Linked DNA regions of Homo sapiens. The protein of the gene in region 1 purifies or fractionates together with the protein of each later gene. This does not show direct contact. Each region holds a gene or a part of one and is shown in the gene's direction. Other genes may lie near its edges.

Evidence for each region. The genes of interacting proteins can lie anywhere in the genome.
Region 2: the proteins of ZNF44 (region 1) and RDH13 purify together in Homo sapiens (affinity purification with mass spectrometry; 2 studies listed by BioGRID and IntAct, with this or other methods). This does not show direct contact.

The regions. Positions count from the first base shown.
Region 1 is NC_000019.10:12,293,107-12,296,853, reverse strand, and holds the start of ZNF44 (zinc finger protein 44), read left to right. Parts: upstream 1-1,970; 5' UTR 1,971-2,159; coding exon 2,160-2,162; intron 2,163-2,241; exon of another isoform or gene 2,242-2,558; intron 2,559-3,478; coding exon of another isoform or gene 3,479-3,622; intron 3,623-3,747. UniProt on the Homo sapiens protein: May be involved in transcriptional regulation.
Region 2 is NC_000019.10:55,061,228-55,064,974, reverse strand, and holds the start of RDH13 (retinol dehydrogenase 13 isoform 1 precursor), read left to right. Parts: upstream 1-1,826; 5' UTR 1,827-1,942; coding exon 1,943-2,007; intron 2,008-3,747. UniProt on the Homo sapiens protein: Retinol dehydrogenase with a clear preference for NADP. Oxidizes all-trans-retinol, but seems to reduce all-trans-retinal with much higher efficiency. Has no activity toward steroids.

The DNA.
Region 1 (3,747 bases):
TCTTCTCTTTCCCTTAATCCTGGGCTCTTAGGCACAGCTAACTTTGGAAGATAGCTTAAATGATAATAAGCCTTCCCCAAAACTCAACTGCCTTTGTAAAACGAATGAATGGCCATCAGGCTGAGGGATGAAAGGAATCGGAATGCTGCTAAAGTGTAGACATAGATTGCCAGCTATTTCTGCAGATAACACCACTATTGTAGATTAGCATTTGTAGACGTATTTTCAGTTTTTGTTTGTTTGTTTGTTTTTTTTTTGCATGTCTGACACCACCTGCACCTGCCAACTCTGCTCCTGTGGCCCCAACCAGAAGTGATTCAGCATAACAGGATAGGTTTTTTTTTTTTTTGTCTTTTTTTTGTTTTTTTTTGAGACGGAGTTTCGCTCTTGTTGCCCAGGCTGGAGTGCAAAGGCACGATCTCGGCTTGGCGCGATCTCAGCTCACCGCAACCTCCACCTCCCGGGTTCAAGTGATTCTCCCGCCTTAGCCTCCCAGGTAGCTGGGATTACAGACATGTGCCACCACGCCCAGCTAATTTTGTATTTTTAGTAGAGACGAGCTTTCTCCATGTTGGTCAGGCTGGTCTCAAACTCCCGACCTCAGGTGATCCGCCCGCCTGGGCCTCCCAAAGTTCTGGGATTACAGGTGTGAGCCACCGGGCCCGGCCTCTTTTTTTCTTTTTTAAATATGTAGCAGTACAAGCCGCAGACAAGAACCCCTCAGACACCGAGTTGTGGAAGGAAAGGGCTTTATTCAGCTGGGCTGGGAGCATCGGCGGACTCACGTCTCCAAAAACCGAGCTCCCCGAGTGAGCAATTCTTGTCCCTTTTAAGGGCTTACAACTAGGAGTCCGCGTGAGAGGGTCGTGATTGATGGAGCAAACAGTGGGTACGTGACTGGGGGCTGCATGCACCGGTAACCAGAACTGAACAGAACAGGACAGGGATTTTCACAGTGCTTTTCCATACAATGTCTGGAATCATAGATAACACAGTTAGGTCAGAGGTTGATTTTTAACTACCCAGCCCAGGGCACAAGCCGGGTTATCTGCCTGTGGATTTCATTTCTGCCTTTTAGTTTTTACTTCTTCTTTGGAGGCAGAAATTGGGCATAAGACAATATGAGGGGTGGTCTCCTCCCTTATAGTATAGAGACGGAGTTTCACTCTATGTCCAGGCTGGTCTTGAACTACTGGCCTCAAGCGATCCTCCCACCTAGGCCTCCCAAAGTATTGGGATTACAGCGGTGAGCCACCACGCACTGCCAAGAGGACAGATTCCATCCCCAGTGATTTCATCCCCACCCCAACCAGTCAGTAGCAAGCCTAGCTACCTCCACCCTTTCTCCCAAACTGCCCTTGAAAAACCCCTACCAGAGGACCTTGGATGAGAATAATTTGAGTAGTAACTCCGTCTCTCACGTATCGTAGCTGGCCTAGTGTTTATTAAACTTTTTTTTTAACTGCAATACCGTGGTCTTTATTTGCGTAGCGCGCAGAAAGAACCCATCCAGCGCTTATAGTGGAAGAAAGGCTTGACCTTGCAGGCGACAGCCTCATCCCAAATTCCTGGTCCCTGGAGGACATCAGCACCACCCCCCCACCCACCCACCCCCTGTCCCCCGCTGCTACAGTGTGGCCTGTGTGGCCTCGGCTGCCCTCCTGCTCTGAGGCCAAGGGATGGCTCCACTGGACAGTGAGTCTGGGATTCCTTGCACACAATTGTTCAGGAGGAAGAAGCAAAAAGGGCCCACTGCGTACAGGTAGGAAATTCCGCTTTAAGGCAAACGTTTCCCGGGACGGGTCGGGTCACAACGCAGGGAGGAAGCCCGCCCTGCCAGGGGCCGGGTCTGGAACCTGTTCATCCGGCTGCACTCAGCACTGTGAGATCGCTTCTTCTGTCACTCAGTGCCCAGGAGGCGGGACCTGGAGGGCTACCCAATCAAAGTCGTGGGCGGGTTCCTGAGAATTGTCAATCAGGCGCGAGGCAGAGAGGAGGGTGTGACGTTCCAGGAGCTAGTGGCCTCTTCACCCTGGTGACCTCTGTTCCGTATTCTGTCACTGAGAGACGCCCTGGGACATCTGTGGTGGCTTTTGTCGCGCTGGGACCTACCCTGACTACGGGAGTTGGGAGGACCCGGGACACCGCACAGCCGGGAAATGGTGAGTGTGCGGGGCCCGGCGTCCTGAGGCAGGGCGAAGGGCTGGTCGGAACCAGTCGGAACCGGCTGTGGCGGGACCCGGGCCTCGCCGCAGCGTCTTTGGGGTCTGGGACCTGAGCGCCCCCTGCGCACCTCGGTCCTCGGTCCGTTTGGCCGCAGGGTGGGGCTGGGCCGGCAGCCGGGACCCCGGGCGTCCTGTCCCGTCCCTGAGCTGCGACTGCGGCCCCGGCCCCGGCGCCCCTCTCTGGGCAGCTCCGCGCCCTCAGCCCCGCTTCTCCCCAGATTGTGCGGCGGAACCAGTACAGGTTCGCAGCCCAAGTCACTGCACCCGGACGCCGAGGGCTGCAGCAGAAACGGTTTAATAGGAGAGGACACCCTAGATCCGCCTCCGTGAGAGGTTTGAGGATGGGGTGTTTAGGGGTCTGGACGGGGGTGGTTGGGATGTGGGGTCGCTGGTTGGTGGAGAAGTGAGGGGTGAATCTTGGGACTGGAGGTGAAGAAACCGCATTCTGCTGCTGAGTGGGCTTCCTTGTGGGGTCTTCAGCCTGCTTGGCGCCAGCCTTTCCGCTGGAATTCAAGATCTGAGAAAGAACTTAGACGACTCTTGAGCAACTCTCAGAGATCTTATCCCCAGGCCAATGGGGAAGCCGGCGGTCAGCGTCTGCTGTGACCTGACTCTCAGGGAGGCGGCTTCCTGTGAAGCAGCGGGGCTGAGGGCACCTGGTTAATATCTAACTGCAATCTCGCCTCCAGCCTGGCTCGCAGTTCCTGTGAGCCCGGTGAGGAGGCTGCACGGTGACGGTGGGAGGGTCACTAGGCACAAACCAGACTCGTGTGTGGGGTTTGTGTGTGGGAGGAGCTGTGGTCTCTGTGCTCTTCAGTCCTTTCTTTCCAAGGGCGACCATTTCTCCTCCGAGGCTTTCAAAGATATTGGCATCAGGGTCTTTGAGACCTGTCCCTTCATCCTAACTCCTCTTGGGGCTAACAGTAAATCTTTTGGTTTCCAGAGCCTTCCATATGCTAACTTCACTCCTCAATTCCCAGTAACGTTATGAACCCTTTGTCAGCAAGACGATATTTCAAATAGACACAGAATTTTGTCGTTTGTTTTCAGATAGCAATGTATGGCTCTTTTTAAACAGATTTATTTTGTTTTCCTTAACATTTCACATGTGAGGAAGAAGAGAATAACCACCTGACACTGCTGTAAAAAAAACCAAACCTTTGTGCCTCTTTTATCTCCCCTAGGCACAGATGCCTTCTCAGTATGTCCTTTACAGGGTGATGTGACCTCAGCCCACCCTGTATCTTTTCCAGGCCCTGTGTTATGGAACTTTCTGGGGCTACCCTAAGATGCTGGAAGCTGCCAATCTCATGGAGGGCCTAGTGGATATCGGCCCTTGGGTCACTCTTCCCAGAGGACAGCCTGAGGTGTTGGAGTGGGGCCTCCCAAAGGATCAGGTGGATGCACTGGGGTGGGAGGAATCTTCTGGTATATCATTCCTGTAAAAAGCTAACCCCTGGGCTGGGCGCGGTGGCTCACGCCTGTAATCCCAGCACTTTGGGAAGCCGAGGCGGGCGGATCA
Region 2 (3,747 bases), about 43 Mb from region 1:
ACCTTCAGGTCTTTTTTTTATTTTGCAAAACAAACTCTGTATCTATTAAAAAACAGCTTCCCGGCCGGGTGCGGTGGCTCATGCCTGTAATCCCAGCACTTTGGGTGGCCGAGGCAGGTGGATCACCTGAGGTCAGGAGTTTGAGACCAACCTGGCCAACATGGTGAAACCCCGTCTCTACTAAAAATACAAAAATTAGCCGGGTGTGGTGACACGTGCCTGTAGCCCCAGCTACTCGGGAGGCTGAGGCAGGAGAATCGCTTGAACCTAGGAGGCAGAGGTTGCAGTGAGCTGAGATCGCCCACTGCTCTCCAGCCTGGGTGACACAGTGAGACTGTCTCTCAAAAAACAAAACAAAACAAACAAACAAACAAAAACAAATCCTGTGACTTCCCAATCTCATCTCCAGCCCCCTGCAGCCACCACTCTGTTTTCTGTCTCTATGAATTTGACTCCTCCAAGTGCCTCTTATACAGCATTTGGCATTGTGTAACTGGTTTAATACGTTTGAGATGGTGAGAGCTTAAGGTCTACAGGCCTAAGGTTTTTTTTTTTTTGACAGAATTTCACTCTGTCGCCAGGCTGGAATGCAGTAGGGCAATCTCGGCTCACTGCAACCTCCACCTCCCGAGTTCAAGTGATGCTCCTGCTTCGGCCTCCTGAGTAGCTGGGACTACAGGTGAGTGCCACCACATCCAGCTAATTTTTGTATTTTTAGTAGAGACAGGGTTTCACCATGTTGGCCAGGCTGGTATCAATCTCCTGACCTCGTGATCCATCTGTCTCGGCCTCCCAAAGTGCTGGGATTACAGGCGTGAGCCACCGTGCCCGGCCATTGACTAAGGTCTTAAAATAGCTCTTCCTGCCTGTATAATCTCCATTATGGCAGGGCTCATATAAGAAGATGACAGTTCATCTGATGAGGAAGAAAACTTACTCCTAGTTAGATTGGGTTGAATTCTTCCCTGTTTCCAGCGGTGTCTGCTCCTGGCACCTCAGGCACAGTCAGGGGTAGGAGGTGGTGATCAGATACACTCGCTGTGAGCAGTGCAAGGGGAAGCAGGTGCCCAGAGGTGCATCCCGGTTTGGTGGGGGTGACAAACATGGACAGGTAAGTGCAGGAGTGTGTGCAATACTCAATCTAAGAAAGGTAGTTCAGGCAGAGTTCAGGGAAGATATCTCTGTGCAGGGCCAGACATGGGGATGAGATTCTGATAATTTGGGAATGAATCAGGCCCCCAGCCCCTCCTCCCTCAGACTCAGCAGTCCAGGCACCCGGCCCTCCTCCCTCGGACCCAGAAGTCCATGCTCCCAGCCCCTCCTCCCTTGGACCCAGGAGTCCAGGCCCCCAGCCCCTCCTCCCTCAGACCCAGGAGTCCAGGCCCCCAGCCGCCTTCTCCTGCAGGACCCCAGGAGCTTGGGTACCCACAGGCTACTAGATCCTTGTTTCTGTGCATGGAAATTCTCAAATTATCTCCAAAAGTCTATGAAGAAGGTAAACACACATTTCCAGATGAGGGAATAGGCTGATATAGTTGAAAGACACACAGAGGGTCACAGTCTGGAATTGACAGTGGTGGGATTCGAACCTATTTCACTCCAGAACTGCGTAGCGCCTTATACGCTGCGGCAAGTGTGACGTCATTCGAACAAACCATAGGCCCCGCCCCCGGACTAGCCACGCCCACAGGCTCCTGAAACCACCAATCCCAGCTGTGACAGCGCTCAGGACCGATGCTCATAGGTCCCGTCCCTAGGATCCCCGCCCCCTCCGCCCGCGCCCCGCCCCTCGCAGCCCAGTTCCGGACGCGGGCCCAGCCGCGCCTGCGCCTCCGCTCGCCTGTGGCTGCGTCGCGCGCTCTTCCTCGGAGCTACCCAGGCGGCTGGTGTGCAGCAAGCTCCGCGCCGACCCCTGACGCCTGACGCCTGTCCCCGGCCCGGCATGAGCCGCTACCTGCTGCCGCTGTCGGCGCTGGGCACGGTAGCAGGCGCCGCCGTGCTGCTCAAGTGAGTACATTCTAGCCCCGCGTGCGCGGTCAAGGCGGGCCCCCAGCGCAGGGGCCGGGAAGGCGGCGGAGACCCCCGCCCCTCGCACCCGGGTCCAGGCCCCGTAGCTCCCGACCCGCAGTGCCCGCCCGGAGTGGGGCAAACCTGCGCTCTGGCCGGCCAGGTCACCGGCCCAAGGTCACTCGGAGGGAAGGGCGAGCCTGGGCCCTTGTAAATGTTGCTTTCCTTCCAGACTTTTAAACTCTTTATTTTGTTGTTTTGTATTATTTATTTGTTCGTTTATTTTTAAAGGCAGAATCTGGCTCTGTCGCCCAGGCTGGAGTGCAGTGGCGCGATCTTGGCTCACTGCAGCCTTGACCTCCTGGGCTCAGGTGATCCTCCCACCTTGGCGTCCCCAGGAGCTGAGATCACACGTGCGCCACCACGCCCGGCTAATTTTTGTATTTTTCGCAGAGACGGGGTTTTGCCATGTTGGCCAGGCTGGTCTCAAACACCTGCCCTCAGGTGATCCGCCTGCCTCGGCCTCCAAAGTGCTGGGATTACAGACGTGAGCCACCTCGCCCAGCCTACTTAATTTAAACTTTCTTAAAAATTAGCCTCTGTGGCTGGTGGCCACTGTATTGCATGGTGCCCTTCTCTCCTGTGGGTGCAGTGCTGTTTACCTGCTCAGCCTCCTGTTGCTGGACACTATCTTGTTGCCAGCGTTAGCCTCTGTGGGACATGGGTGTGGTGGGCAGAGTCGTGACTCCGTAGAGGGGTCCACGTCCTAATCCTCGGAAGGTGTGACGACATTACCTCACGTGTCAGAGGTTCTCGCTGATGTGTTAAGTGAAGCATCTTTTTTTTTTTTGAGACAGAGTTTCGCTGTTGTTGCCCAGGCTGGAGTGCAATGGCACGACCTCGGCTCACCACAACCTCCACCTCCCGGGTTCAAGCGATTGTCCGGCCTCAGCCTCCTGAGTAGCTGGGATTACAGGCATGTGCCACCACGCCTGTCTAATTTTGTATTTTTAGTAGAGACGAGGTTTCTCCATGTTGGTCAGGCTGGTCTTGAGCTCCCGACCAAAGGGGATCTGGCCACCTTGGCCTCCCAAAGTGCTGGGGTTACAGGCGTGAGCCACCGTGCCCGGCCAAGTGAAGGATCTTATGATTATCATGTAGTCTTTTTTTTTTTTTGGAGACAGGGTCTCTCTGTCACCCAGGCTGGAGTGCAGTCATGCTGTCACAGCTCACTGCAGCCTCACCCTCCCTGGGCTCAGGTGGTCCTCCCACTTCAGCCTCCCGAGTAGCTGACTCTACAGGCGTGCACCACCAAGCCCTGCTAATTTTTGTATTTTTAGTAGAGATGGGGTGTCAGCATGTTGGCCATGGCTGGTCTCGAACTCCTGACCTCAAGTGATCCTCCTGTCTTGGCCTCCCAAAGTGCTGGGATTACAGGTGTGAGGCACTGTGCCGGTCCTGCCTTGTAGTCTTATAGGGTCCTTATAAGAGGGAGCAGGAGGCTCAGTCAGAGGGGAGATGGAAGATAGAAGGAGAGGTTGTTGGGTGTGGTGGCTCACGCCTGTAATCGCAGCACTTTGGGAGGCCAAGGCAGGCGGATCACAAGGTCAGGAGTTCGAGACCAGCCTGACCAACGTGGTAAAACTCTGTCTCTACTAAAAATACAAAAGAAATTAGCCAGGTGTGGTGGCATGTGCCTGTAATCCCAGCCACTCAGGAGGCTAAGGCAGGAGAATCGCT